Linked DNA regions of Homo sapiens: regions 1, 2 and 3 are each linked to region 4. Evidence: fine-mapped expression QTL. A gene starts in region 4. Each other region holds a variant in brackets. All regions are shown on one strand. Distances are from middle to middle. Region 1 overlaps FRY (FRY microtubule binding protein). Region 2 overlaps FRY (FRY microtubule binding protein). Region 3 overlaps FRY (FRY microtubule binding protein). Region 4 holds the start of FRY (FRY microtubule binding protein).

Region 1 (7,759 bases), 87 kb after region 4:
TGCCATGGTACTTTTGTCACAACTAAGAAACCAGCATAGGTACATTATTGTTTTATGTGTTGGGCTTTTTTAGTGGTTTACTATAAAGGAGATTGCAAAGGATATAGATGAAGAGATGTGTAGGGCAAGCTGTTGGGGAGGGGGTGCAGTTTCCATGCACATTATTGTTAACTAAACTCTACTGTGCTTTATTTGTATTTCCTTTCTTTTTCTCTGATATCTTTTTTCCGTTCCAAGATACCATTCAGCATACCACATGAACGTTTAGTCATCATGTCTCCTTAGATTCGGCAGATTTACACAAGTATTTTTAAATTATTGAAATATAACTGTAATGCTTTGAAATTTCGTTACCTATGTAATAATTAAGATAGTCATCCTATAGTCAGAAACTCTGAATTCTGATCCCTTTTTCTTCAATGGGAGGAATGTCCTTCATTTCTCAATTCAAAACATTTTAGATGTTGGTGACTTCGGAAAGTAAATATCCTTTCTCATGTTGGGATAACTTTAGAAAGAATTAGTGAATTACTACCTTGCCACATCATGATTAGCTTTCTTCTGAAAAGTTACTGCTGTTACATTCATGACCACAGCAGGAAAAATATGTCTTGGCTGTGGATTTCACTAGAGTCAAGGGAAGGGTGACTCTTTAAATAATTAGATTGCTCTTCAGTTTTAAAAAGTTTATGCTGACTAGGTTAACAGGGCAGGCTGAATGCAATAGCCTATTTATTTTTACCTTATATTAACTCATAACTAAAGATAATGTACAATTTTGTATGTGTACATATAACCATCATTATGGGAGAGACAGCATGAAGTAGGCTATGAAGTGGTAGAATGTGAGAAAGAAAGCAATAAATATTTTGTTCAATCTTAAGGTTTCTTTTAAAGGTGACAGTGGAAAATCCTATTGACACAAAGCACTTTAGCTCCCTTTGCTCTCATTTCCTGCTTTATAAAAGGAAGTGAAGCCCGGCCTGCTTAACTGCAGAAATATTGTGAGTTAACTAAGGATTTCCATTTCTTCTGCCATCTCTGCTTCTCAGGCCGAGATCACAGAATGCCTGGAATCACTGCCATCACCTCATGCAGTTCAAGCATGTGTGTGAATTTGCCTCCACATCACCCCACTGTTTGGGGGATTCAGCCTCCCCATACACAATTTGTATGGGCTTATGTCCCTATTCAAAAATCTTTAGAGTCTTCTCATTTTCTAGAGAAGAAAAATTTTCAGCATTATGTTCCTTCACTCTGGCAAAATAAAGTCTTCATACCAGTCAGATATTTCTTCTTTCATTTCACTCAAAACCTTCGTCACATCAATTGTGATAATCATCAACAGTTACTTTATACCTTCATTACTAAAGGCTTTTTCTACCTTGAGTCTTTGCTTTTTTTTTTCTTGGGTCTCATCTCAAATTTCTACCCTTTCTAAAATAGTCCCAGGTAAACTCTCATCTTCATTTCTCTTAAATTCCCAGCCTCCTTCTCCCTCTAGTGATCTGACCTAAGAACCCCTGGTTTTCACATGCACTCTATATGTTAGTATGTTTCCTTCTGGTCCTGTTTTCTGCATATGTATACTTACATAGTATCTCTAACAAATTGGAATCATACCAATTAAATGATTCTTCATTTTTTTCATTTACCATATCATGAACATTTTCATGTCATATTTTTATATTTATATTAAAATATGATTTTAATGGTTTCAAAAATAGTCCACACCAAATTCCACATCTTATTAAGCATTTACATGTAGTTGGACATTTATGTTGTTTCCATCCTTTTGCTATAATAAATAATGCTGTCCTGCACCTTCTTACTTATCTTTAATTATGGACTTGAGATAAATTCTAAGAGTGGCCTTCTTGGGAATGATTTTTATTAGGTTCTTGATATGTATTTCCAGAGATGTTATGCCTGTTTTTTTCTATCAGCGGTATATGAATATATCCACTTTATCACTGCTCATCAACTCTGGGCGTTATAATTTGCTTATACAGTTTGTTGATTAGCTAGTTAAAACCCATTTCATTGTAGTTTTACATATTCTGGAGACAAGGCCTTAGTCAGACATGTGTTTCGCAAATATTTTCTCCCACTCTGTGGTTTGTCCCTTATCACGATCTTAACTGAATTCTTCTAAAAGCAGAAGTTTTTGGTTTTGAAGAGTTTCATTATATGAAATTTTATCATAGACTTTGCTTATGGGGCCGTACCTAAGAAATCCTTGCCTAATACAAAGTCACAAAGGTTTTATCCTATGTTTTCTTGGAGTTTTATATTTTTAGGTTTTATACTTAAATTTATGAGGCATTTTGTGGAAACTTTTGCATAGAGTAATGAGATATGGATTGAAGTGTTTTTTTATAGTAATCAGTTAAAAAATCAGGACTCTTTCCAGATAAGGAAATTAGAATAACAATTCTACCAAAGGCACATTTGTTCTTTAAAGAAAAAGGGAGAAGTTTGCCTTTAATGTAACAGGGGGTAAATTATTGCTGCCCATTTATATTTTGAGTCTAATTTGGGGCATACTTCAAATTAATGAATGAATAATTATTGTCCAAAACCATACATTATTATTACCACTTAGGTTATTTGGTGATGGGGGCAGATTTGTTTATATCATGTAAATTATTAATGTAACTGTATTCATATATTTATACAACAAACATTTTTAGGACGGAAGAAGCATTCATCTACTTTAGGCAGATGAACGTGGGAACATAATATCTTTGCAGTTCCATGAATAACCTGTATGCAATTAACATCTGATTTCTAGAATGAAAGGGAGTCAAAGTAATTAACTTTCTTGAACTACAAAATTATTCTTATATGGGGAACATTTGTCACCATTAAGAGACAGGCTCTTGGGAATGTACTAATAAAGATTATGAAAGAAAGGACTGTGATACGGAAGAAAATATTTTAGTGAGTAGTGCTTGGGGTTACTTGTGAAATAAAAAGTTTCTCAGTAATTGGCAGTGCTACCAGTGTTCTAATCACCTGCATTTTCCTCCATAGGTCATCAGCTCAATGAGCTCCCTTTCTGAGTACTGCCTGCCTTCCATTCTACGTACATTATTTGACTGGTATAAAAGGCAAAATGGCATTGAGGATGAATCACATGAATACAGACCAAGAACAAGCAATAAATCAAAAAGGTACATTTCTTTTGTGTAAGGATCATGGTTTTATTTTGTTTTGTTTTCAGGAAACATAAATCAAAATTAGAGTTACAAGGCAATTGGGTCTTCCTGACTCTTCACAAGGATGCCTAGCAGGTGCTGCAGGGGCCCTGTGTCTGTAGCAGGTAACCCATTTGGAGCACCGAGTCACTGCCAGCCGTCACGGGTTGAAAATTCATACACAGCTTTATTTCAACTTTGGTGGAGACAGGTGTGAAGGGCCACAGGTCACTTTCTTGCCAGCTTCTTTCCTCTGCCCTCTCCCACTGAGTCTACACCCAAAGCAGAATGCTGACTTCAGGCCTTGCGTGACATGCCAAGATATTTTAGTCCTCGTTCCAGTAACCTTGAGTGCTCAGTGTACTGTAGTGGGAAGGACGCTGGACTGGACGTTAGTGGTAGTCCTGGCGCTGCCACTATTTAGCCATGTGACTTTGGGCAGCTCCCCGCCTCTCTGTACCTCAGCCTCCTTGTGAGCAAAACAAGGAAGTTAGGTGACACCATCTCCAACTCCTCCTTC[C/T]AGCTGAGTATTTTGTTTATTTATTCTCTGTTCCCTTCTTCCTGTGGGTTTGAAAAATGGAACTTGCTGCTCCAGGAGCATATCAGCATCTGTAAAACTTAAGATTCTCATTAATGTGTGTCCTCCCCAAATTTTAGGTAAGCACATATAATTTCATATGTTTAGTCAACCTATAGCAAGGCAGTGAATATAAGAAAGATTAATACACTTACCTTTTTTAAAAAAAATAAAAGATTATTTTAAAAAGTAGTTAGATTTCTCCACATGAATGGATTATTCCAATTAAAAAAATACTTTTAAAGTCTGTAAACTGAAATTAATCAACCAGAAAATCAGACATTAACTACTTTTTGTGAATGATTTATTTCTCTCATTTTTCTTGAAAGTCCTAATACTGTTTCAAAAGACTTCTTTTGAAATAGAAGAATTGTAACATTACCATGTTACACTTCAACAAAATTTGTAATCTGCTTTTATAATGTGCTTGAATTTATGCAAGATTTAATCATATAATTTTGTTTGGGAGAGAGATTAATAACTTTTTCGTATTGAATTTTTTTTAGTGAAGAAGGAAATTTTTAGAATTTTTAGATATAACTCAGATGCCATAAAATTCACCCTTTTAAAGTATATAATTCAATGTTTTTAGTATATTTACAGGGTTGTACAACCATTACCACTCTAATTTCAGAACATTTTTATCACCCCCAAATCCTGTACCCATTAGCAGCCTCTCCTCATGAATATTTTTTTAATTTATCAGGTTTTAAAAATAGAATTTAAATTGTTTATCTGAAAAATGGTTCAGACCATGTGATTAAGAAATTAAAAGGATCATTTTATTATTTTTTCCATATTACATGTTGTCTTATGAACAGATATTAAACCTTCCCAGGGGCAGGGAGTGGGACAGTTTTTAGTGAGTTGAATTGAGTTTTAGTTTTGTTCCTCTGTTTTGTCAGAATTTAGTTGCTGAAATTAGATTTTTCATGAATTGATTTCTTTATGGATTAAAAATTATAGTTTTTAAAATTGTGTTACTGATTATTTTCAGGAGATCAGAGTAAGTACTGAGATCAGATAAAGAATCAGGACAGTAAAATTTGACTTAGTAGCATTTTAGTTAATGCTTGAATTTTTAAAATAAGAGAGAAAATGTGCTTAGAAAACAGCCAAATGAATGAAGCTCTCTAGGGTATGGTGTAGCTAAATGTGAGTTTCTGCTACTAGGAAAAAAAGGTTGGGGGGACTTTAAGGAGGAGCATAAACTACTGAAAATAGATGTCAGGGATGCACATTGGGTTGTGATTTCTGAGATTAGTACAGTATCAGCATTTGGACTGCCAAATAAATCTGTCAAATGTCTCTGGCTCCTGGCAGTTAGACTGCAAACCAGCAATAAAGTTGAATTCATTATTAGAAATGTATATGTCTTACTTTGATTTGAAAACATAATTTGGCTTATTAAATAAAATAGAATCAAAGGTCTACATTTTTTTTTCTGCCAAGAACTGCTACTTTCTCAGGTTCCTCTGGCCACTTGTAAAGACCCTTAGCATCCAGCACAAAAATACTCTCTCTACTGCTGCTGGCCATCTCTGGGAGTTCTCCTTCCTTTTGGTCTTTCCAACTTCCTGTCTCCTTATTCTATAATATAATGGATATAAAGCCTGATTTCTGAGTGCCCTCCTTTTTAATGCAGCTGCATAGATTTTCCTTTCCCCCAGCTCGCAGTGCCGCTTACTAGTTCCAGTGGGTCTTGAAGGACTTTAGATAGATGGTTTTGTTCACAGCTCTTTCTCCTGGCAGGGCTGTTCATAAATGATCCTGAAAGAATGAGTTCCTACTCTGTTGATACATTTACTCCTTGAAAGATAAACATGCAAGTTCCTTCTTAACGCGTTCTGTCATCCACCAGCCTTAATTTGACTTGCTCAAAGTTACAGAGCACTCCAGAAGGTCTTCTTTATATCTTAAATATCACATTATTTTCTTCTTATTCCCTTTTGACTAAAGAGAAAAACATTCCAGATTTAAAATAGTCTTGATTTATTTTGAAAAGATCTTCCTGGCAAGTCTAAATCCTGTCATCCCTCCTCATTGGTTTTATTTAATATATACTATTGAGCATTTATGTGTTTGGGAAATTATGCTAAATACTTTACATGTTTTATCTTCTCAAACTATTATGTAAGTACTATTATTCACATTTTGTAGATGGAGAAATTGCCGATAAATAGAAGAGGCATAATTTTATGCCAGACTGTTCCACACCAGAGTCAGTGCTCTAGGCCACTTCTTGTGCCAAGGAGCCCAGCAGTAATTTCATCTGTCTTTGTTCAATTCCAAATGAGCCCTCAATCAGTGTGTTAGTCAAGCAGAAAATGGGGTAGAGGGACTGCCTTCCTGTTCTTCTGACAGTGCTGATTCTGCTTCTAACTTTTTTAAACATTTATTTATTTTTCCGTACGTTATTGGGGTACAGGTGGTATTTGATTACATGAGTAGGTTCTTTAGTGGTTATTTGTGAGATTTTGGTGCACCCATCACCCAAGCAGTACACATTGTACCATATTTGTAGTCTTTTATCCCTCGCCCCACTCCCACTCTTCCCCCCAAGTCCCCGAAGTCCATTGTATCATTCTTTTTTGTTTGTTTGTTTGAGACGGAGTCTCACTCTGTCACCAAGGCTGGAGTGCAATGGCATGATCTCAGCTCACTGCAACCTCCACCTCCCAGGTTCAAGTGATTCTCCTGCCTCAGCCTCCCAAGTAGCTGGAACTACAGGCATGCACCACTGTGCCTGGCTAATTTTTGTATTTTTAGTAGAGACGGGGTTTCACTATGTTGGCCAAGCTGGTCTTGAACTCGTGACCTCATGATCCGCCCACCTTGGCCTCCCAAAGTGCTGGGATTACAGGCGTGAGCCACCATGCCCAGCCCACATTGTATCATTCTGATGCCTTTGCATACTCACAGCTTAGCTCCCACATATCAATAGAATGTTTGGTTTTCCATTCCTGAGTTACTTAACTTAGAATAATAGTCTCCAATCTCATCCAGGTCACTGCAAATGCTGTTAATTCATTCCTTTTTATGGCTGCATAGTATTCGATCATATATATATACCACAGTTTCTTTATCCACTCATTGATTGATGGGCGTTTAGGTTGGTTTACGATTTTGCTATCATGATTTGTGCCACTATAAACATGCATGTGCAAGTATCTTTTTCGAATAATGACTTCTTTTCCTCTGGGTAGATACCCAGTAGTGGGATTGCTGGATCAAATGGTAATTCTACTTTTAGTTCTTTATGGAATCTCCACACTGTTTTCCATAGCAGCTATACTAGTTTATATTCCCACCAGCATTGCAGAAGTGTTCCCTGTTCACTGCATCCACGCCAACATCTACGGGTTTTTTTGTTTTTTGTTTTTTGTTTTTATGGCCGTTCTTGCAGGAGTAAGTTGGTATCACATGTGGTTTTGATTTGCATTTCCCTGATCATTAGTCATGTTGAGATATTTTTTCATATGTTTGTTGGCCATTTGTATGTCTTCTTCTGAGAATTGTCTACTCATGACCTTAGCCCACTTTTTGGTGGGGTGGTTTTTTTCTTACTGATTTGTTGGCATTCATTTTAGATTCTAGATATTAGTCCTTTGTCAGATGTATAGATTGTGAAGATTTTCTCCCACTCTGTGGGTTGTCTGTTTACTCTGCTGACTGTTCCTTTTGCCGTGCAAAAGCTCTTTAGTTTAATTAGGTCCCAGCTATTTATCTTTGTTTTTATTGCATTTGCTTTTGGGTTTTGGGTCATGAAATCCTTGCCTAAGTCAGTGTCTAGAAGGGTTTTTCCAATGTTATCTTCTAGAATTTTTATAGTTTCAGGTCTTAGGTTTAAGTCCTTAATCCATCTTGAGTTGATTTTTGTATAAGGTGAGAGATGAAGATCTAGTTTCATTCTCCTACATGTGGCTAGCCAATTATCCCAGCACCATTTGTTGAAAAGGGTGCCCTCTCCCTACTTTATGTT
Region 2 (7,759 bases), 57 kb after region 4:
GTTGTGCATGTGCATACCAGACCATAGTGTATTTTTTATGGTGGTGGGGTAGGGGCAGAGATTTTCTCTTAAGTTGAAGAAGCAATGTGTTAGCCTATAAGTTCCTTGGAGGCAATATCTGTGTGGGATGCATCTTGACACATACACACATGCAAACACACACACACACACACACACACATATCCCATGTCCCCATGTTTAGGACAGTGTTTGCGTATCATGGACAGTACATGCTTTTTGAATGAATGAATGAAACATTAATATAATAGCTTGAAAAGAATGTCTTTATTGGAACCTGTGTGTTTCCAGAGGTCATCTTGCCAACTCTAAACTAATAAACTAATAATAATAGATTATGTTCTGTTCTTTGCACAGATGAATGCCCTAAAATGTGCTGAGTACAAGAGGCATTGATTCTCAGCCTCCTACTTTCAGGCATCTAAGGATACCTCTTTATTCATTGATATGGTCACCTTCTCCTCACACTGACTCCAGCAACGGGTGACTCTTAGTGATCAGACACAGTATCAGAATATATGCTCTCATTCTCTATGAGTCTGTCTATATAGCATCTATTACTGTAGTCACAGGCAATTACCTTCTCAGTAAGCTCTTTCCAAAAACAAGACTCTCCAGTTTTTCTGAATTCAAGTGCTGCTATCAATTTTGACTTTGTAGATCAAATGGACAAAAGAGATAAAGTTAAAGACAAAACAGCTTTTCATTCTGACTGATCCGGATTTGACTCCTGCTTCCACCTCTTTAGTGTTGTGTGACCTTGGACCAGCCAGTCAACCTCCTTTTTTTCTCATTTGCAAAATGGAAGTAACAGTACCCAGCTCACAGGGTGGTTGAGAGGATTAGAGGGAGTGTGTGGAGCCCCTGATACACTCCTGAGCATGTAGGAGATGCTCATTTGTCCTCATCACCACCCTCCTCATTATCCTCATTGGAGGGCTGAGATGAATTTCTGGTATATTTCCTCAGAAGTCAGCCTGGTGCTTCCTCTCTTTGTGTTCACGCAAACATAATGGAGGCTTGAGCAGGGGACTTGACTGTCTCCTGTTGCCATTTATCAATACTGTCAGGTGCCTGTCCTGAGCTCTGCCATGGCATTGACAGAGACACAACCACAGCTCCTTTCAGCAGACCTGGTCTTAGCCCTCCAGGTGCTCATGCTTTGGGAGATGACAGAGGCAAACAAAGTACTTAAGAGAAGACAACACCCCCAACGATCTCACTGTATTTCCAGCAAAATACTTGAGTCCTACCCAGGTGTGAATTGTGAAGACCTAGGCGGTAAAACCAGAGATTTGAGGTAAGTCCGCCTCTGAGGGTTTTCAAAGGCTTTCAAAGAGGAAATTTCATTGGTTCTTGAGAGTAGGGGTCTCAGAAAAAAATAAGAACCGCATAATGGCCAGGCAGCCCAAAATATGAAAGGCTGGATTACTCAGCTAAGTAAACCAAGTTTAGAAAATTTCAAGAATTTTCAATCACACTTCTTAGGCTTTTGTCCACGCCCCTCCCTATAACTTGACCAATACACAAGAAAATTGGTTTTTTATTATAGCCCTGCCACTAACCTGTGCTTCTGGCAAAGTCACCTACGTGTGATCTGTCATTGTTTTCTCGTCTATGAAAGGATAGCAGCCAGGCCATTTTCACTCTAGTGTATAAAACAAATGAAATAAAAGCAGCATTCACTCTCAAACCCCTGGGTTTAAACTCTTAAATTCCCTGGGTTTAAATCCCTGGGTTTAAACTCACTTATTAGTGAGTCTGTCCAGGTTTAATCTCCCATTGTCCCTTCCAGGAGCTGCAGTGGAAGCTAAATTGGGGATTGGGCCAGGAATTCCATCTGGATCTAGTCTATCAGCATAAAATGTCATCGGGAAGAAGAAAAAGAAATTCTAACTTGCCTGACAAAGAATTACTCAGAAAGAAAGTAATTTACTGTGTTTTGATTTTGAAACCTGGAAAAACGAAAAGTTTTTTTTAAGTCTACTTGACTTAAAAAAAAAATCTAACTTTAATCTTGTCCTTCAGCAGAGACTAAGAATGAGAGCTGTGCTTATCTTCATCCAACACCCTGGAATTCAAAAACACTTTTTATGACGAAAGATGAGTGAAAATGGGGATTTTCATTATTGAGGTTGCTTGAGCCTTAGTAGCCTTGTTCACAAAATAGTTAACGGACAAGATGCAGGCAGGATATTTTAGACATTGCCCCTGTGCTGAGTTAGGAGCACAGGTGTGGGCTGACAGAGTGATAATTCATAAAGGTGCTAACTGTGTCATGCTGGAATGGAGGCTTAAAAATAATAGAACATGATCTAGCTGGTTTGCTAACATGAAAGAAGTAAACTCAAAGTAACACAAACTATTTTCTTGGGGTACACAGTCTGAAGAATCCAGGATGCCAAACTCTATTGCATCACACATCATGAATCTGTAATGAAATATGTCATGCTTAAGAACAAACCTGTAGGAACATCAGTCATGGCCAGCCGGCACAAACACTGAAAGGCCAGGCAATTAGCTAATGACAGCATTACTGCTTGCTAGTGTTGTTCCAGGTTCAGGCAGTAACGTTGTTGACATACCTTTGTTCCTTGGCCCAGAGTCTGAGGCTTCCAACTCCTCCTGTGTGTTGATGTTACAAAGCTGGCATCAGGACAACTCTCCTGTTACCCCTAAAGTTAAGTAGGACGCTGTGCTGTAATAAGGACACTGGTGGCCCACCACCAACAGATGGTATATGATGAATGGTTCTAGTCATTTTGATGAACGGGACTGTGGGTCTAAGTAAGCAAGTCCTTTGGCAAGTGACATACATACTCATCCCAGCTTCCTCTTGTGATTTTAGACCATATCTGATGAGAAGTAAGAGACTGAATTTAGGATACACCCTATTTTTAGGTGTAAAAGAGGTTTTTTCACCTCTGGGCCATCTAGAGATTGAACATTCATCCATAGTCTTGTATTTCATTCATTCACATGAGTGATGTGTGTGCAGACTTCTAGATATCAGAAAATATCAGATCCTTTCATCCGGAACCCTTTTTAGTATTTTAGTAATTTGTGAATTGGAAATTCTGCTGTGCTAAAGGACAGAATGACTACCTCTAATTAAGTTTGGATCTTTATATGGCAGATCTTCATAAAACTGATTGTAATTTACTAATCATCTTCATAGGCTTATCACCATTTACTAACCTCAGCCATATGATATTTCATAATATTTTATCATGCCCATTTGCAAGTTGGTTGTTTTTCTGCACTGCTCTACATGCCAATCTTCCTATACTAAGCAAAGGTTACATGTCTGTTGACTAAGGATGTGTAAATAGCAGAAATGCCAGCCTTAATGTCTTTCTGCACTGTGGATTCCAGTCAGCTTCCCAGAAGGATAATCAGCTAGTCTTGTTGGTCAAACTCCTCTTTAAATAGAGGCTGCTGTTGCTTCAACAGACCAAATAAGGGAAATATAGAGTAAAAGTAATTTCATGTAGCTCCCTGTTGAGTGTAGTGATAGAATCAAAGCAATGCTGTCCTGAAAAGAGACTAAAACATTGCTGGTCAGATAGGGAATATTTATATCACACTTGACAACATACTGGCTAGTTTTCAAATTATAAATAAATAACTTTTAAAATAGCTGTTTCTTAGCAAAACAGCTTAGCCTGGAACGTCCCTTAAATAATCTATAAAGACATTCACCAAAAACTTGAAAATTCACCCTAACCCAGAAACATAGCATTGTTAGTAGCTAAAAAGATTCAATTTAACTGCTGAATGAGGTGATCTTTCAGATGAGCTCATAAGTTTGTTTTCTTTATCATGAGTATGCTTGGAGACATGTAGATGAAACACATTTCTTCTGTGGCTCCTAAATGGAACTTTTTCAGATGTGAAATGAAATTTAATACACCACCATAGTTTGATTGAACCTTATAGCAAATAAATGATGTGAAAATATCACCAGGTAATAAAAAATATCAGAGGGCTTTTTACTTCAATTTAATAGTATCCAATTCAATTCATTCATGGATAAGGCCATAATTTTTATTTTTATTTCTGGTGACTTTATGAAGAGATTATCGAAGTTTCCTTTTTTTGAGAATACAAAACCAGACAAAGGTAATTCCTCATTTCGGTCTAGTTTTTCTGATGATATGTTCTTTGTACTATTTACAAAGACATCCTTTTTAATACAAACAAAAGATCATCTGGAAGTATATGTTTTAGAGTGACAGAAAATACCAATAAAAATACGTTCAATAATAATGGCATAATACCAAGTAACAATGGCTCATTCCTTAAGGTCACTGTGATGTAATATTGCTGTGTTTCCACACAACATTTTGCATTTTGACATTCCTGAAAATCATCAGTACAGTTTTCAGCAATAGCAAGTTTTACTATAGCATTGTAGCAATTTTAACCGGCACAAATTTTGATTTCTACGGTCATGCTAACAATAAGACTTGTTTTATTAGGTATTTTTACTGTTGCTTACATACATATCTAGTATATTCTGACTTTTAAAATTTCTTAAAACACAATATTCTATTTGATAATATTTCCTGATGCTTTTGGGAATTTCTACTCAATTCCTAAGTTGTAATCACATAGGTTGAAGGCAGGGGGGTTGGAATATTCCTGTAGGCTTTCCCAAGATGATTCAGCCATGAAGAATGTGAACATTCAAGGAAAAGACTATGCAGGCCACAGAGAAGGAATGTCTGGTGGGCACAGTGGCTCACACCTGTAATCCCAGCACCTTGGGAGGCTGAGGTGGGAAAATTGTTTGAGTCCAGGAGTTTGAGACCAGCCTGTGCAACGTGGTGAGACCCCCCATCTCTATCTACAAAAAATAAAAACAAAAAAATTAGCCAGGCGTGGTGGCACATGCCTGTGCTTCCAGAGGCTGAGGTGGGAGGACCATTTGAATGAGGCTGCAGTAAGCCGTGTTAACACCACTGCTCTCCACTCCAGCCTAAGTGACAGAGTGAGACCTTGTCTCCAAAAAAAGAAAAAAAGAAGAAGGAATGTCTAAGAAGTAGGAGGAGAACAGATGGGAGGTGGAGGGCAATTCAAGTGGAAAGAAGGGAGTGAACATTGCAGCTAAAAGATCCAGCATGAAAAATGGCCACCAGATTTGCCATTTGGAAAGTTACTGGGGTCCCTAGGGAGACTAATTTTAGTGGTGAAAGAAAGGCCAGATTGCAAGTAGTTGAAGACATTTTGAATAGGAGAGGAAAGAAAGACAGGAAGTGTAGACCACC[C/T]ATTGGAGAACTGAATATGAGAAGAGGGTTAGAAAGGAAACCACAGCCGGGCGCTGTGGCTCATGCCTGTAATCCCAGCACTTTGGGAGGCCGAGGCGGGTGGATCACGAGGTCAGGAGCTCAAGACCATCCTGGCTAACACGGTGGAACCCCGTCTCTACTAAAAATATTAAAAATTAGCCAGGCGTGGTGGTGGGCGCCTGTAGTCCCAGCTACTCGGGAGGCTGAGGCGGGAGAATGGCGTGAACCCGGAAGTCGGAGGTTGCAGTGAGCCGAGGTGGCACCACTGCACTCTAGCAGCCTGGGCGACAGAGCTGGACTCCATCTCAAAAAAAAAAAAAAAAAAAAAAGGAAACCACAGCCAGAGGTGGATGTGTGGTCAAGGAAGGCACTACGATGAAAAGGTTTAAGCATGTTGATAGCTGAGAGAAAGACCGAAGAGAAGGGAAGGGTGGAAGACAGGGGTCACTGAGGAGCTGGCTGATGGAGCCATGTCCTGAAGGAGATAGGAAAAGATCCATCCACACACACTGTAGTAGACACTGAAAGTCTACTGAGTGAACATAACATGCACAGTTAGAGGGGTATATTGGGACAAATAAAATTGAAAAGACCAACAAAATAGAAAGTTACCCAGAAACAAACAAATGAAGGTTGTATCTTACATTTCTTAGTAGCTGCTGTAGTTCTTTTTTTTTTCTTTTTTAAAGAATGCCTATGAGAGCTGCTCTTTTGTTCAATTAAAATGAAGATTAACTTTGTAGCTGAATTTAAGTGAAGTTTCTCTTCCACTGTTCAAATAATGGATTTGTACTTAGGGTTGTTAAATGTGGCAGAGAAATAGGCTCCACTGAAATGAGCAAAACCACTGCAAATAGGACAGATTATCTCAAGAGATTTTGCTTAAAAAAAAAGTGCCAACATATTCTTCCAGATTTACATCTGCCTTCAGTTTTCATAGCATAGGGTACTGGGCAGCATCTTACCTGATAGTACCTTGGATTTATTTGTGCTGTGTCTTCTGTATCATTCTCTTTTGTTTCTTTTTCCCCAGTATTTTAGGTGAAAGGCAGCATTTATTATTTCGCTTAAGAAAATTCATTTTAATAACTAAATGGAATAAAAGGGGAGAAGTTTTGTCAGGGTTTTGACTATTTCTCATTAGTTATTAGAAACCTACTCAGGATGTCATAGGGTGATGTCCATTTTTACAAACTGAGGCAGGTTATCAAGGGGGCTAAGTCTTCCACCAGAAGTCCAGTGATCCATGCAGTCAGTCAATTGACATGACCAGAGTACATCTTCAAGATTAATCACACCAGTGGGGTGCCGATTACCCCTCATGATGGGGAAGTCATTTGGGGAGTAATGGTCAGTATTCAGAACTGTGAGTCTTCAGGCTCACTCTTTAGATGTTTTTCCAAACTTGAGTCAAAGTTGGCACAAATGAGATCTGATGAGAAAAAGATGTCAGACATGAAAACATTTGGGACCCCGTTATTCTTTGGTTCATACGAAGTAGAGTGCCTGCGGCTGGGTGTAGATAGTTCTGAACAAAACGCTTTGGTGCATTTTCACAGTTGGGTCCACAGCTCTCTACTGTGAAGGGTGCCACCACATGGGGTGAGGAAGCTCACCACTAGGCATCTTCCCGTGTTCTGGTGAAGAAGAGAGATCCTAATGGTGGTAGTTCCATTCTGAAATTCTTTATTAACCACTAAGACCAGACATTTATATTATAAAATTTCACTGCTGCTGATATCAAAACCCTCAACTGATTATGTGTATCCTCATTTTTTCTAAAAGATAGCTGAAGCTTAGAGAAGTTAAGAAAGGGCCATAAGTTGAGAGGACCTAGGATTCAAACTCAGGTCTCTCAGATTTCAAAGCCCACACCCTTAACTGCTACATCCACTGTTGTAATAATTAAAAGACTTTAAAATAGCATCTTAAGCAAGGTTAGTGATATATTTAACTAATTGAATAATCTCATATTAACTCCAATAGCATTGCTGGGTTAAACACATTCATTGAAATCTCTCTAAATGCCCAGATGTCACCACAACGCAGTATATCCATGTAACAAAACTGCACTTCTACCCCTTAAATGTAAACACATTTTTAAAAAAGAAATATCTCTGAGGGCAGTAATACTTTGGATCTTTCTAGATTAGTGAAATCTTACCTGTGTGGAGCACACTTGAAATTTTGGAAGGCCACTAAAAAGTTAGAAGTAGAAAGTTATTTGTATTAAATGACCCCTTGTATAATACCTCAAATAAAACACGTCTTGATATATCAGACTCCCTCTAGACTTCTAAGTGACTGTGGCCTGTCTGTCTGGCCATCTTTCTTTCCTCCTAAAGATTACAGAGATGTATGATATGAAAAGATTGTGAAGTGAAGATGTAATTCGTGTACACCAAAATTGTTTGAAAATTAAGGTAGAGGGCGATGGCTTTCCTCGGCCC
Region 3 (7,759 bases), 67 kb after region 4:
ACCCCCCACTATCCTTCCCAGCCTCTAATAAACATCCTTCTACTCTGTGTCTATGAGTTCAATTGTTTTAATCTTTAGATCCCACAAATAAGTGAGAACATGCAATGTTTATCTTTCTGTGCTTGGCTTACTTCACTTAATGACCTCCAGTTCCATCCATGTTGTTGCAAATGACAGGATCTCATTTCTTTTTTATGGCTGAATAGTACTTCATCGTGTATATGTGTCACATTTTCTTTATCCATTCATCTCTTGATGGACACTTAGGTTGCTTCTAAATCTTGGCTATTGTGCACAGAGCTGCAACAAATGTGGGAGTGCAGATATCTTTTCCAAATACTGATTTCCTCTCAGTATTTGGAAAAGATTGCTGGATCATATGGTAGCTCTATTTCTAGTTTTTTGAGAAACCTCCGAACTGTTCTCCATAGTGGTTGTACTAATTTACATTCCCACCAACCAGTGTATGAAGGTTCCCTTTTCTCCATATGCTTGCCAGCATTTGTTGTTGCCTGTCTTTTGGATATAAGCCATTTTAACTGGGGTGTGATGGTTTCTCACTGTAGTTTTGACTTGCATTTCTCTGATGATCAGTGATGTTGAGCACCTTTCATATTCATGTTTGCCATTTGTATTCTTTTAAGAAATGTCTAGTCAAGTCTTTTGCCCATTTTTTGATCGGATGATTAGATTTTTTCCCATAGGGTTGTTTGAACTCCGTGTATATTTTGGTTCTTAATCCATGTCAGATGCATAGTTTGCAAATATTTTCTCCTGTTCTGTGGATTGTCTCTTCACTTTGTTGATTGTTTCCTTTGCTGTATGGAAGCTTTTTTTTTTTTTTTTTTTTTTTTTTTTGAGACGGAGTCTCACTCTGTCACCCAGGCTGGAGTGCAGTGGCGCAGTCTTGGCTCACTGCAACCTCTGCCTCCTGGGTTCCAGCAATTCACTGCCTCAGCCTCCCAAGTGGCTGGGATTACAGGCGTGCGCCCCCAGCCCAGCTAATTTTGTATTTTTGGTAGAGACGGGATTTCACCATGTTGGTCAGCCTGGTCTCGAACTCCTGACCTCGTGATCCACCCACCTTGGTCTCCCAAAGTGCTGAGATTATAGGCGTGAGCCACCCTGCCTGGCCACTGTGTGGAAGCTTTTTAACTTGATGTGATCCCATTTGTTAATTTTTGCTTGGGTTGCCTGTGCTTGTGGGGTACTACTCAAGAAAATTTGCCCAGACCAATGTCCTGGAGATTTTCCCCAATGTTTTCTTGTACTAATTTCATATTTTGAGGTCTTAGATTTACAGGTCTCTTTTCTGAAGCAGGCCTGAGACTTACGGATCTTTCCCTTGTATTCAGATGGCTCTCTTCTGAGCTGGAGCAAGTTTGCCTCTAACCTTTCCTCTCTTTTTATCTCTCTATCCTTCCTCCCCTCTTTTCTTTCTTCCTCCATCCTTCCTTTCTTCCCTTTTATTCCCTCTTTCCTTCCTTCCATCTTTCTTCCTTCCTTTTTTCCTCCCTTCCCTCCTTCCTGTCTTTATTTCTTCACTCATCCTTTCTTTCTTCCCTCTTTCTTATATTCTTTCCCTTTCTCCCTTTCTTCCTTTCATCTTTTGTTCTCTTTATTTTTTAGCTACTATGGTATTCTGTCCCCTAGGTGTACTCTCAAGTCTCATCTCACTGATAAAATCTATGTTGATGCAAAGATAATCTTGGTAATGTTAAAATGTGAACCTGATTCTCTGTTCGCAAAGCTATCTTTCCAAATGCATACAGTTATAGTCAGCCATTTAACACACCCTGATAACTTCCAACTGTGTACTAGGGGTATGGAGGAGACAGACAAGTTACAACATGGTGGGAATGCTAACAAGAATAGGTGCAAATAATGTACTGTGTGACAACTAACAGGTGACTCTGCTAGGGAAAACTGCGGGGGGGGGCTTCATCTGGGAAATGACATTTAAGCTGAGTCTTCAAAGAATATGATTAAGACAGTATATTTGTGTGCAGGTGCAGTGGCACGCCTGTAATCCTAGCAGTTTGGGAGGCCCAGGTGGGCGGATCACCTGCGGTCAGGGGTTTGAGACCAGCCAGGCCAACATGGTAAAACCCCATCTCTACTAAAAATACAAAAATTAGCCAGGCATGGTGGCACGTGCCTGTAATCCCACCTACTCCAGAGCCTGAGGCTGAGGCTGAGGCAGGAGAATCTCTTGAATGCAGGAGGCAGAGGCGGCAGTGAGCTGAGATCATGCCACTGCCATTCAGCCTGGGTGACAGAGCAAGACTCTGTCTCAAAAAAAAAAAAAAAAAAAAAAAGATAGTATATTTGTGTAAAAATAGTTAAGGAAAACTTAGCAACTTAGCATGTTATTTTATTGCAGCATTGACCCCAAGTTCTTAGCTAATGGACTTGACTTTTATGTATAGCAACAACTTATATATATATATCAACTTTGCTTATTGGAGAAAGTGAGCCTGACAATATGTTGTTTCCTTCATATGTATGCAAAAATGTGTAAGTGTAAAATACCATGTTTATCAGCTTCCCATCTAATTTGTAGTGGGACAAAAATAACTTTTAGGTAGGTATGGGGAGCTTTGGGATGTGGGTGGACACAGTCACCTTTCTTTCCCCGCTGTGGCAGGATCTTCTTTTAGGTAGTAGTGAAAGAGGATTGCCTTCTGTGCTCCCACTATGTGAACTCCTGAGTTGTTGTAGGGGTCTACAGACCCACAGGTGTGCTGAGTTATCATTTGTCTGAGTTTTAAGGTCTCCCATATAGATGTATTCCCATGTTTCTAGTATGTATAAAAGAAGTATTTTTGCTACTCTAGTACAGAACCTTTTTTTCCTTTTTTTTTTTTTTTTTGAGATGGAGTCTTGCTCTGTGGCCCCAGGCTGAGTGCAGTGGCATGATCTTGGCTCACTGCAACCTCCACCTCCTGGTTCAAGCGATTCTCCCACCTCAGCCTCCCTAGTAGCTGGGATTACAGGTGCCCGCCACCACACTCAGCTAATTTTTGTGTTTTTAGTAGAGACAGGGTTTCACCATGTTGGCCAGGCTGGTCTCGAATTCCCAACATCAGGTGATCTGCCCACCTCGGCCTCCCAAAGTCCTGGGATTATAGCCATAAGCCACCGTGCCCGGCCCAGAACCATTTAAAAGTATCATTGGAGCTGTAGTATTAGCTCTCTGTCATTATGTATAGTTTTAAACAATAGATTCTAAAATAAAATTACTATCTTATATGTTTGGAGTGTGTGTGTGTGTTGGTTAAGAAGTTTTTGAACATTTCTGGAACTAAAAGGAATCTTCATAAAATAGATAATGATAATGTTTGAACAACATTTGAATGTACTTAGTGCCACTGATTTCTACACTTTAAAGTGCTAAATCTTCTGCTATGTATATTTTACCACAATAAAGAGTATTTTTAAAAAAATTTAAAACTTAAAACAAGACATATACACAGAAAATAAAGGGATTTTCATATTTGAAAAAACTGGACACCACTGTCCTAGAACTTCTATTAATCTGGCAAATGCGTAGCCAGCACCAAGCGAAATGCACATGGTGGTCTCACCTACAAGCCTGAG[G/A]TTTCATCAAGAGCCTTACAAATTCCAACTACTCTGTCTCCATTGCAAAATATACAGGTTCAAAATGTGTATTCATCTAAAATACAGAGAATACTGTGTTTTTATGGGTAAACAAACATTTTCTGTTCAAAGTATACTATTTAGATATAATGAATAAATACTATATGTATTCATCAATCAACAGTGTCTGAAGGTTCACAGCATGTCACATGCTACATATCAGGTGGAATGCTGCATGTCAGGCGAGCCATGCTCTGTCCTGTGACTTTAAGTGTTGAAAGAAACAGAGGTCGCTTCATTTCTGGGGCCTGCCACCTAGCAGGGATGGTGCTCGGTGCCTCACTCATGAATGTGTAATTGCACAAGATGATGACTGTGATGTGACTTTACTCTATGGTAAGGTCAGTGAAAGGACAAATACATGAGGCTTTGCAGGCATGTACAGGGAGAGACACCAGGTGTTAGGGGATGGCTCAGAGAAGGGCTTCCCTGAAGAAGTGATAGTTCAGCTGAGGTTTGAATAATGAACAAGTAGAGACAACACTCATAAGAGGAAATTAACCACATTTCCCCTCTCAGACTCGACTCTTCTCCCCAGTAGTGTGTATCGTGTGTTCTTCAGTGTTCCACCCCGGCATGTAGCATTTGACGCATTGTGAACCCTCAGTCACTGTTGAGTGATGAATAAACATATAGTATCTATTCATTATATCTAGATAGTATACTCTGAACAGAAAATGTTACCCATAAGAACACAGTATTCTTTGTATTTTACATGAATACACATTTTGAACCTGTATATTTTGCAATGGAGACAGAGTAGTTGATTTGTAAGGCTCTTGGTGAAACCTCAGACTTGCAGGATAAGACCACCATGTGCGTTTCTTCAAGAACAAAGACAGTTGGGGCAGGGGTGGGGCTTGTATATGCCTTAGGTAAGATCATCTTTGTGAGTGGAGGAGAGGATTGGAGAAATGATTAGACCCACAGTGAGAGGGTCTATGTGAGCAGGTACATATAAATGGAGTCTTGCTAGGGAACCTGCATTGGCCAAAGTAAAACTTAATATTTTTTGATATATAACTTTTGCATTGTTTCTAATCCTCAACCAAATTTTGGATCAGAATGAACTTCCATAACAAAGACATATATATATGTGTATATATGTATATATATACAGGTTCAAAATGTGTATTCATCTAAAATACAGAGATATATATATATACACACACACATACATACACACACACTAACACATACACACACACAAATAAGGGTAAGTAACATAAAATGCTCTGCTGGAGGCTTAAAAAGCAATACCGCGTGAGTTGAGTCATTTTGGAAAGGGTGAATTAGCAATATATATTATTCTATAATTAAAAATTCAAGTTGTCCGAGTTTTAAAAAGCTCTCTGAAAGAGCACAAAGAAATACGATTTTGAAAACGTATAATACAGTCAGCATAAAAGCTCTATTTCCTTTGTGTGAATGAACATTTCCCATGTAATTAATTTACTTACAATAGATACTTCAAATCCTTCTACCAGATATGTAAAAATTTCTTTCTGAAATGCATTGAAAACAGAAAACTATTCATGATGAATATTTTCCTCAGAAATTTCAGTTTGGAAAACTGAGGTCTTGCTTTGAGTTACATTTTCTGGAGTTCTCAAAATGTCAATAATGTCTGAATTAAACTCTTTGAATTGAAAAAAAAATGCTCTGCTGGAAGATCAGTTAAGGCTTCCTAATGTAAACAAAGATGTAATAATTAAGGTGAATTGTTTCTGTAGTAGACTCTTGTTACTACTGATATTATTTTTGCAGAGAACTAGATGTGGTGCAAGAAAAATCACATGCCCCAAATTCACCAGTTACACCTAGTAAATGTATGATTGGTAGGTTCTCCCTCAGTACCAGTCTAATAAATAAACCTTACTTTGCTTCTAAATCTAGGGACTTGGAATAGTGAATTGCTTTCAACTTTTTATTTTATTTTATTTATTTTTATTTTTTAAGATGGAGTCTTGCTCTGTCACCAGGCTGGAGTGCCGTGGAGCAATCTTGGGTTCAAGTAATTCTCCTGCCTCAGCCTCCCGAGTAGCTGGGATTACGGGCACACACCACCTTGCCCAGCTAATTTTTGTATTTTTAGTAGAGACAGGATTTCACTGTGTTGACCAGGATGGTCTCCATCTCTTGACCTCGTGTTCTGCCCGCCTCGGCCTCCCAAAGTGCTGGGATTACAGACGTGAGCCAATGCACCTGGCCGTGACTTTTTATTATCTGTCAAATCCCAAGATAAATATTAAATTTTTCAAATAAATTTTACGGTTTTTATTATGTTGTTGCCATTGAAGACATAGGACCACTTATAGCATCAGATTCTTTTTATAAAATTGGCAAATAAGTTTATTTATGGTGTTACAACATGATGTTTTGATATATGTATAATGAGTAAATCAAGCTAATTAACATTTCTATCACATTACGTAAATTTTTTTTGTGATGAGAACATTTAAAAATCTACTTTCTCAGCAGTTTTCAAGTATACAATGTATCTTAGTCCATTCAGGCTGCTATAACAAATTACTATAAAATAAATGGCTTATCAACAATAGACATCTACTGCTCAGAGTTTTGGATACCCAGAAGTCCAAGATCAAAGCACGGGGATATTTGGTTGCTGGTGAGTTCCCCCTTTCTTTATAGATGGTGCCTTCCCGCTGCATCTTCACATGGCAGAAGGGGAGAACAAGCTCCTTAGGACCTCTTACTGATCCCACTCAGGAGGGTTCTGCCCTCGTGATTTAATCTCCTCCCAAAGGCCCCACCTCTTAACACCATCACCTTGAAGGTTTCAGCGTATGAATTTTTGGGGGATACATTGAGGCCATAGCACAATACATTATTAACTGCAGTCACCATGCTATACAGTAGCTCTCCAGAACTTATTCTTCCTATCTAAATGAAACTCTGTACTCTTTGATCAACATCTTCCATTTCCTCTCATTCCTCTCTCGCCAGCCCCTGGTAACTACCATTCTAGTCTCTGCTTCCATGAATTTGACTTTTGTTGATTTCAGGTTTATGTGAGATTGTGCAGTATTTGTCTTTCTGTGCCTGGCTTATACACTCAGCATAATAATAATACTCCAGGTTCGTCCATGTTGTCAAAAATAACAGGATTTCCTTCTTTTTTAAGGCTAAATCGTCTTCCATTGTATATATATGTAGCACATTTTCTTTATCCATTCATCCACTGATGGATACTTAGACTGACTCTATATTTTGGTTATTGTGAATAATGCTGCAGTTAACATGAGCATGCAGATATCTTTCAAGATACTGATTTCATTTTCTTTGGATACATACCCAGAAGCTGAATTGCTGGATCATATGGTAGTTCTATTTTTAATTTTTTGAAAATCCTCCATACTTTTTTCCACAGTGGCTCCACTAATTTACATTCCCACTAACAATATACAAGAGTTCTCTTTTCTCTACATGTTTGCCAACATTTATTATCTTTTGTCTTTTTGATAAAAGTCCTTATGACAGGTATGAGGTGATATCTCATTGTAGTTTTGAGTTTCCCTAAGTATCAGATTCTTAATGTTTTGGTCAAAGAGACATGTATTAAGATGAATAGCAAGAGTCGTGGCAGTAATGATCAAACATAACTACTATGGTTACAATACCTAAGGGAGAATACCTCACTCATTTAAAAATTGGTGCCTCCTGATTCCATAATGAGAGAAATGAGTGAGAAAAAATGGAACAATAATGGCATTTCTTTTATACTATTTAAGAGACTCTAATAATTATTCTTGCATATATTCTTTTTCTTTCTAGGAAAAGCCATTGACAAAATCTCTGCAACGTGGAGAAGACCCCCAATTTGATCAGGTATGTGATATATATGTTATATACTAGTTTTCCTTTATTTCAGCATTCACGCAAGGCAAGGTCTGCATGCTCACTATTGTTGTATGGATGAACATCCTCAAAAAGTATATGGGTATGTGGTCTTAAGAACTGTACCCTGCAGTTTTCATGGTTGTGGTTTATAGCTGTTCAGTAAATGTCTATTGGTTAGAATCAAAAAGAACTGGAAAGTATTGGGATAATATGAGTAGGTCTTCAATTGATTATTTCC
Region 4 (7,759 bases):
AAAGGCATTCTTCTCTTGGTTTCTTGGAATTGGTTACAGTCCCCAGGGAATACATCACCCAGGACAAAGCCAGGCAGGAAGACAGTGAATAGGCTGGGAGAGTCAGTGGGACCTGAAGCGCCTCTGCTGTGTTAGGGAGTACCTTAGCATCTTTCCTGAACTTTTATTTATTTATTTATTTTTATTTTTTGAGATGGAGTCTTGCTCTGTTGCCCAGGCTGGAGTGCAGTGACAGAATCTAGGCTCACTGCAACCTCCGCCTCCTGGGTTCAAGTGATTCTCCTGCCTCAGCCTCCCAAGTAGCTGGGATTACAGGCGGGTGCCACCACGCCCAGCCAATTTTTGTATTTTTAGTAGAGATGGCGTTTCGCCATGTTGGCCAGGCTGGTCCTGAACTCCTGACCTCAAGTGATCCACCCGCCTTGGCCTTCTAAAATGCTGGGATTACAGCCATGAGCCACTGTGCCCAGCCTCTTCCTGAGCTTTCTCTAAAGAACTTGGTAACCATGATTCTCACCTTGCTTGTGATTTTTAAAAAAATAAATAAATAACAAAGTTATGACAAGTGACTCAGGGTCTAAAATAGACCTAAATTTTACTAGCTATATGAGTTTGACCTTATTTTATGCCTCCTTAAGCCTCAATTTTCTCATCTGTAAAATGGGACTAATAATAGTACTTACTTCATAGGTTTGAGGTGAGTATTAAATATAAAAATATATATTTTTTTAACTACAATATTTATATTCAACAAATGTAGATGGTGTCATTTAGTGTCATCACTTGTGTCAGGCCACTTTCCGACTTTTTCCCCACTCTTTGATACCATTTTCTAAGGCCTTCCACTTTTCCTGTTATCTTTCACTCAGTCCCCAACATCTATGCCTAATTCCATGCTTGACAATTCATTGTATGTTCTCCTAATATTTTTAAGGAAGGATCCCTCATTTTTACAGGTATGAAAGCTGAGATAGCTTTAGGTCCTCTTAAATCATAACTGAAGTCACTAGCAAGCCAGGAACACATTCAGATTTTACTGTTGCATTTTAAAGTACCTCTGTCCAGGTGCCTCTTCTGACTAATTTTTTTATGCCCCCCCAGAGAGAGAGAAGACAAAAGGATAAATGTTTCAACTCAGCTTGCAGCGGGTGTCATTCTATTTGATTTGCAGGCCTTTCAACAAAACAAAAGCCCTTTTCTGTTCTTTTACAATATATGTCCTCTTTAAAGGTACTCGAATGAAGAAAAAGCATACACTGGACAAGATTTCAGGTTCTAAGAGACAGAAACTGGGCTCTTAGATGCTGATTCACTCTTCACAGTGAAAGCTAGATGGCATTGAAAACATTATTTTCTAAGTAGCATTTACATTTTTATGACCGTTTCCCTTGAAATATATATGAGTGGCATTCTCAGCAAGTTAGTATGTTTATAGTAGTTAAATACTGAAAACTTATGTATTTAAGTATTGAAAACTTTAAAAAGCCAGTTAAAAATTTTTTAAAATAAAGTCAACAGAGAGAATCTCTATATATTTGAGTAACAATATACAATAGCATGTTTGCTTATTGCAACTGATTTTAAATGTCTCCAACTTGCTCTCCCCAAATAGTTACCACTGGTGTTCAAAAGTAATATATCTTTTAAACCACATAAAGAGTAAAGAAAAAAAAGTATTTAGCTTTTTAAAAAAAAGTTCTATTCTAGAGTCACTAAGGATTCATAATAAGAATGAATGGGCCAGGCGCAGTGGCTCATGTCTGTACTTTGGGAGACCAAGGCAGGTGGATCACCTGAGGTCAGGAGTTCAAGATCACCCCAGCCAACACTGTGAAACCCTATTTCTACTAAAAATACAAAAATTAGCCGGGCATGGTGGCGCATGCCTGTCACCCCAGCTACTCAGAAGGCTGAGGCAGGAGAATCGCTTGAACCCGGGAGGCAGAGGTTGCAGTGAGCCAAGATTGCACCACTGCATTCCAGCCCAGGCGACAGAGTGAGATTGTCTCAAAAAAAAAAAAAAAAAAAAAATCAATGTAGCTAAAATTTAATGAAGTGTTAACTATGGGCAAGATACTATGCTGAGCCCCTTTCATACATAGTGTTATTTATTGTTTCCAACAACTATAGGAAGAAGGTACAACCCCATTTTACAGATGAGGAAACGAAGGCTTAGCAAAGTTAATAGCTTACTTTGGGGCTCAAAGCTAGTAAGGGCTGGTGCCAGGAGCGAACATGGGGCCCTGCCTTGAGAGCCCATGCCATCGTTAATCGCAGGGCACTGTGCAGCCTACCTGTTCATTCACTGCCATCTGAGTCTTGGCAAGCATCAGATGGGCGTAGGTATGAAATTTATTTTCAGATATAATAATTGTTTCAAGGTAAAACCTTTGGGTCTTATTTTACCTAGAATCCATACATTCAAAGTACAAGTGATAAAATCAGTTCAGCAACTCTAGTATGCACATGAATTAAAAAGAAGTCAATCTGGTGAGAGATTTCATCAGAATAAAGTGTATAAGTGGAGTTGGAAATCTGAGTGATTGAGTGCTTGCCATTTGGGTAAGTGTAATGAGTTTGAAAAACTAATTGTATTGATGAAGTATCTTAGGGCCTTTCAGAACATAGTTCTAGAAGTTTTATTTAGTGTTGAATTTTAAAAATTCTTTGTCCTAACAATAAAAGTACATTGTAGTCTTTCCCTTCCATTTTTAAAATGAACTGTTAATCTAGGAAGTCCTGTTTGTGTGTTGATTTGGGGAGTTAGCCCAACATTTGCTATGTTAAATACTTATTAACATGGTTTATTACTTTTTTCTGTTTTTTAGACAACATTAATCATGAATGTACTGGGACTTGGGAAGGATCCTGTGGTTTATGAGATAGTTGGCCAAATCCCACCTCTTCCAACATAACCTGTCATTATTAAAATATAATACTCTTATTTAATCCCCTGGTCAAGCTAAATGATAATGTGAAACAAAGCTAACCAAAATCAGGACACCTGATATCAAGAATTCATGAAATCAAGAGCCATTGTAGAGCAAGGAATCTAATGCTTTTGCTTCTTATCCTTTTCATACAAATAAAATAAGCTTCACTGGGCTTAGTGAGTCTTAGAAATGAGAGGTTTGAGAATAAGATCCATTGTGGAGTGTGTGACATTACAAAAACAAGCCAACTAAGCAGTGTGTACTGTCCCCTTAGAGTGCACACGTTCGGGCTCCGATGCCCCTTGAAAAGACTGCATTTCTGGGAGGGAAAAGTAAAAATGCAGATACCACCATGCGTGTGGAAGGCAGGGAAGAAAAAGCCCAGACAAGCGTCCTCTTGTTGAGTCTCTTTACTGCAACGAGGCTGACGGATGGGGTTTTTCAAAACGTCGCTGCAACCAGATGCAAGGCTGCAGCTTTGCTTACCGCAGCGTGCTGCAGTTGTGTTTATTTCAGGGACAGACACAAGGGGAAGCAGCAGCCAGAGCACACCCGGGCCGCTCACGGGAAGCCTTGCTGAAGAGAGAGGATCCGCAGAAGCTGGGAAATTCCTCCCGCAGCCTAGGCGGAGACTGAGCCGCGGCTCAGGTTGAGACAGTGGGCAGGGGCAGGGGGCGGCGCTCCCGGCCCATCCCTTAGCCCCGCGGCGGCCGTGTGGGCCGGAGGCTGCCTGCACCGCGTCAGGGAGGCCGGCCTAGAAACCCTCCCTCCCAGAAGAAAGCCGATCCCAGTTCAGGTGGGGTCTTCCTCGGTTGCGTACCTGGCTGGAGCCGAGCTGGTGGGCGGCCGGCAGCCGGCGTTTCTGGTGATGACAGCCCCGAAATGAAAGCAGCGCGGCCGCCGCCTCCGAGGGCTGCAGGGAGATCAGCGTCCAGCAAATAAGAAGCAAGTCCTGGACCCGGAGGAGGAGGAGCGGCCGAGCATCTCTCTCTGCTCCGCCGTGTCCTTTAGATGAGCACTCCCGGCCGGAGCCGGAGGTGGATCCGCAGAGCTGCCTCTGGGCGCCTGACCCCGCGCTGACATCACAACCTGTGACAGGCGCATCACGCCCGGTACCTGCTCCCGGCCGCTGCCCGTCCTCCCAGCCTCTTTGTATGCCGCAGACATGGCCAGCCAGCAGGATTCGGGCTTCTTTGAGATCAGTATCAAATATTTACTGAAATCCTGGAGTAATAGTGAGTAATAGAAAATAACCTTTTTGTTTGTTTGTTTGCTGGATGTTGCATAAGGCTGGAGACAGAAAATCTCAACTGGACACATATGTTTGTGAGCCGCGGAAGTTTTTCTTTTTTTCTTTTCTTTTCTTTTCTCTTTCTTTCTTTCTTTCTTTCTTTTTCTTTCTTTCTTTCTTTCTTTTTTTGCTCCCATCTGCTGTGAAAATCAAAATGTCAGAGACTGAACTAGCTTTCCTTAAGTGCAAAGGCTGCAATGGAATTACAGTAGATTGTGTTTGATTAAATTTTCAAGTGAGGCAGCCCTTCAGACTCTGGGGGAGCTCAGGATCAGGCATTCCTGGCTGCATTTCCTGCCTTGATGTTTATTTGATTTGTTCAGGCTTTCTCTAAATATTTTGTGAAGTGTGATTTAATCAAAGGGGTGTGGCAGGGTTTCAGAGTACTTTGTAATTGTTTTTTTAGGGTATTGTCTGAAGAAAGAAAAGTATTTAATAGTCCAAAACCTAGGACATCCTTTTTGTATATAGAGGCATCTGCAGATTTATTTCATCTCTCCCTCTTCCATGTGGATGATGTTCTGAATGCCATTTAATATTTGAATTTTTAAAAATCCTGATGTTTGCTATAGTCCAAATATTGTGCTTTTTTGAAACATAAACAAGTGAGGTTCTGACCCTAATTATTTATTAGGATAGCAGAATATGATGGCTCCTGAAGTTCCATTTCTGACCTACATAAGGATTTTAGCAATACGCTATTTCAAAAAGACAACCTCTAAGCTGCCGTGGATCTGGAATCAAATTAAAATGAGGCCTTCAGGTGATCAATGATGCCTTGTATTTTCCGAACTGTTTAAAAAGAAAGTCTTCTCTATTTCACTAACAGCCTTTGTACTTGCTTTGGATAAAAGATCAGCAGGTATTACTGATGCTTTATTGTTTTAAATAAAAAAATTTTTTCCCCGTGAAAATTTTAATATTGTATTATGTGCATACTGATTAACCTACCTGTGCTCAAAGAGCTAGTGATTAATTGTCTCCTACACAAATGACCTGTGGCCAAGATTGTTCTTATATAAACAAAACCTGGGCAGGAGAACCTGTGCTGCAATTGCTTTGAGGAAAAGAGCTAAAGTACCTTCAGCCTTAAGGTATTCAGGGATGTGCATCTCTAAATGATATCCATAGAAACCATTTTTTCCAGGTCATTTTGCACCACTGTATACACTATGGGGCTTGTCTGAAGCTGTTTTTCTACAAGTGGGAAGCCATTTGGGAGTAATACTGTTGCCCAAACAGCATTCTTTACTTGTCATAGCTATAAATCATTTAACTTGGACTCATTATTTTTATAATACTTTACACTCAAGGATGAATCTTCCTTTGTCTATCTGCTCTTTGATTAATGAAAAGAATTTGACATACAGTGTTCTTTATGGAGCAGTTTTCCAATAACTGAAAAAACTCACTTTTGAGTTGACATCAGTACGTGGTTTTTAAACATATTTGATTATTCCAAGACCAGACTGTTTTCTTCCATCAATTTTTGTCATTGCATCATTAAATAGAAAATTATGTTGTGACAATACTGAGGCCAATGGGATTTCTTTTAAAAATTTCTCTCCCCTTGTCTATTTTCAAATCACTCTAGATAAAGTATATATTCTCTCCACCCTTCCTAAACTCCTCTCCCCACATACATACTTCAGGAAATGATTCAAAATGACTGTTCATTTCTACTTTGAGAATATCTGTGATACAATTTTGAATTCTTCCAATTCATTCAGCAAATATTTATTGAATACCTACTATGTGCCAGGCTGTGGGGCTACACAAGGTGAATAAGACACAGTCCCTGCCCACTATATTAATTTTTTTATTTCAGAGTAGTGAAGTTGGTGGCTTTCCAGCATTCTTTTGAGGGGGAGAATGTTTTTCAGTCCTTTCTTGAAAGAGGAAGAGGAAATATACTTTGTTTATCTTCTTTAAGCTTGTTACAACACTAACCTGCTTACAATCTAGCATAGTTCTCATTGCTAAGTTTTACATATTTTGAGCAGCAAAGAGAGAAAGGAATTTGTCTGTGTAGAAGGCAAAGTAGAAACAGAAGCCCTAAGGCTCAACATACTCAGTGTAACCTTGGCTGAGAGGATGCACCATGAGGCAAGCGGCTAATTGCACCTGCATGCACCTGCACGCGCATGCCTGGCCTCACAAGTTTGAGAGGTGAGGATGTCTGCCCACATACCTGAATGGAGACTCAGCCTCTTAATTATATGGTGGTGCTTATTTACAAAAGTGCAGTAATTAAAAAGCAATAAAACAAACTCTATAACTATGACTGGCTGTTTTGCAAGGTGTTAGAAGAAAGGTAATTCCATAAGCGTTTCCAGGTAAAGCTTTCCATATTTTTTTAAATGGCACATTGTGGGGAAAATGTAATTATATATATATTAGTCCCCTCCAAAGAATTCACAGGCCAATAAATAGATCAGTCGCTGGCTAGTGAGATGTACTAGCTTTCATTCGATGTTCATTTTGGTGTTCTCCTCTTTATCGGCACGTCTACTCTGTCATGCTGCCCTTTGATTTGAATGGAGGTGGGAATTAAAATGGCCTTGATGTCTGGAAATAAAATGTCCTATGTAGACCTGAATATGGAGGCTTTCCTGTCCCCTTGGATGTCTGTCCTGTTGCTCTTCCCTGCTCTTATCCAGCCTTTCCCCAGCTGTCTAGTGGTTCTCACGGCTGCGGCCCCTTGTTAATCATGGCCACAGCCTCCACATGCCCTTCTCAGTTTAACCTGGAATGCTCCAGTGGTGTCCTCACAGTCAAAGGCTGCTCCCCAGCTCCCTTTTGCCTCTGAGTGTCAGTGGTAGCCACTCAGGACCCTCTTTGAGCTCCTCGTTCATCCTCTCTCATGTTTTTCTGCTCCAGCCAACCAAGCTTAATCTACTCACTCTCCTCTGTATTTAACTAACATGCTCCCAAATTCATGCCTGTACACCCATCAGTCTCCTAATAAGGCCTCGCTTACCTAGAATGTAAAAATGGCAGGGCCAAATGGGCTTCAGATCTCTTGCTCCTGCACTTGCATGGCTTCGGACAGTTAAGTAATCACTCTCAGTTTCCTCATCTGTAAAATGTACGCAAAAATAATGGGTACCTCATAGGAGTAAATGAGGTATTAAGATGTAAAGCACTTAGCACAATACCTAGCACATTGTAAATGCCCAATAAGCATTAAAATAATATTCATGTATTCTAATGCCCTCCTCCCTTCTAAATCCACTTCAAATCGGATGTAGACCATGTCTTCCCTTAGCCTTGGCATCCAAAGTGGGTTATTTTATGAGTAATCAACACTTGCTACACTCTAGAGAAGAGAACTACATAAATAAATGTCAAAATTAGTTGGTTATTTTGGGCTGGTTTTTTTTCTCCCAGATTTACATTTTTAACTTTACCCCTTGACTACTTTAACTTTCTACCTCACTTACTATTAAAATATCCCACTTACCCTAAGTGCATACTTTCTAGCAGCTTGGGAGTTGGTCTGGGAATTTTCTTAGTGGCAGAAAGTCACTTTGGC

The links. PIP is the estimated chance that this variant, and not a neighbour inherited with it, causes the effect.
Region 1: its variant is fine-mapped to the expression of FRY in whole blood (TOPMed, PIP 0.91).
Region 2: its variant is fine-mapped to the expression of FRY in whole blood (TOPMed, PIP above 0.99).
Region 3: its variant is fine-mapped to the expression of FRY in monocytes (Quach 2016, PIP 0.90).

Annotation. Positions count from the first base shown.
Region 1 is chr13:32,114,298-32,122,056 of GRCh38, forward strand. FRY (FRY microtubule binding protein) reads left to right here. Exons shown (of 61, transcript NM_023037.3): 4 at 3,037-3,176. Among named protein-coding and RNA genes, the nearest start is that of FRY, 86 kb to the left of the region's middle. The variant C/T (reference allele first, on the strand shown) is at 3,721.
Region 2 is chr13:32,084,735-32,092,493 of GRCh38, forward strand. The region is part of intron 2 of FRY (FRY microtubule binding protein); the gene reads left to right. Among named protein-coding and RNA genes, the nearest start is that of FRY, 57 kb to the left of the region's middle. The variant C/T (reference allele first, on the strand shown) is at 5,289.
Region 3 is chr13:32,094,508-32,102,266 of GRCh38, forward strand. FRY (FRY microtubule binding protein) reads left to right here. Exons shown (of 61, transcript NM_023037.3): 3 at 7,456-7,509. Among named protein-coding and RNA genes, the nearest start is that of FRY, 67 kb to the left of the region's middle. The variant G/A (reference allele first, on the strand shown) is at 3,601.
Region 4 is chr13:32,027,698-32,035,456 of GRCh38, forward strand. FRY (FRY microtubule binding protein) reads left to right here and starts at 4,077. Exons shown (of 61, transcript NM_023037.3): 1 at 4,077-4,168. The coding sequence starts at 4,099. It overlaps FRY-AS1 (FRY antisense RNA 1), which reads right to left and starts at 3,942. Exons shown (of 4, transcript NR_103839.1): 1 at 3,754-3,942.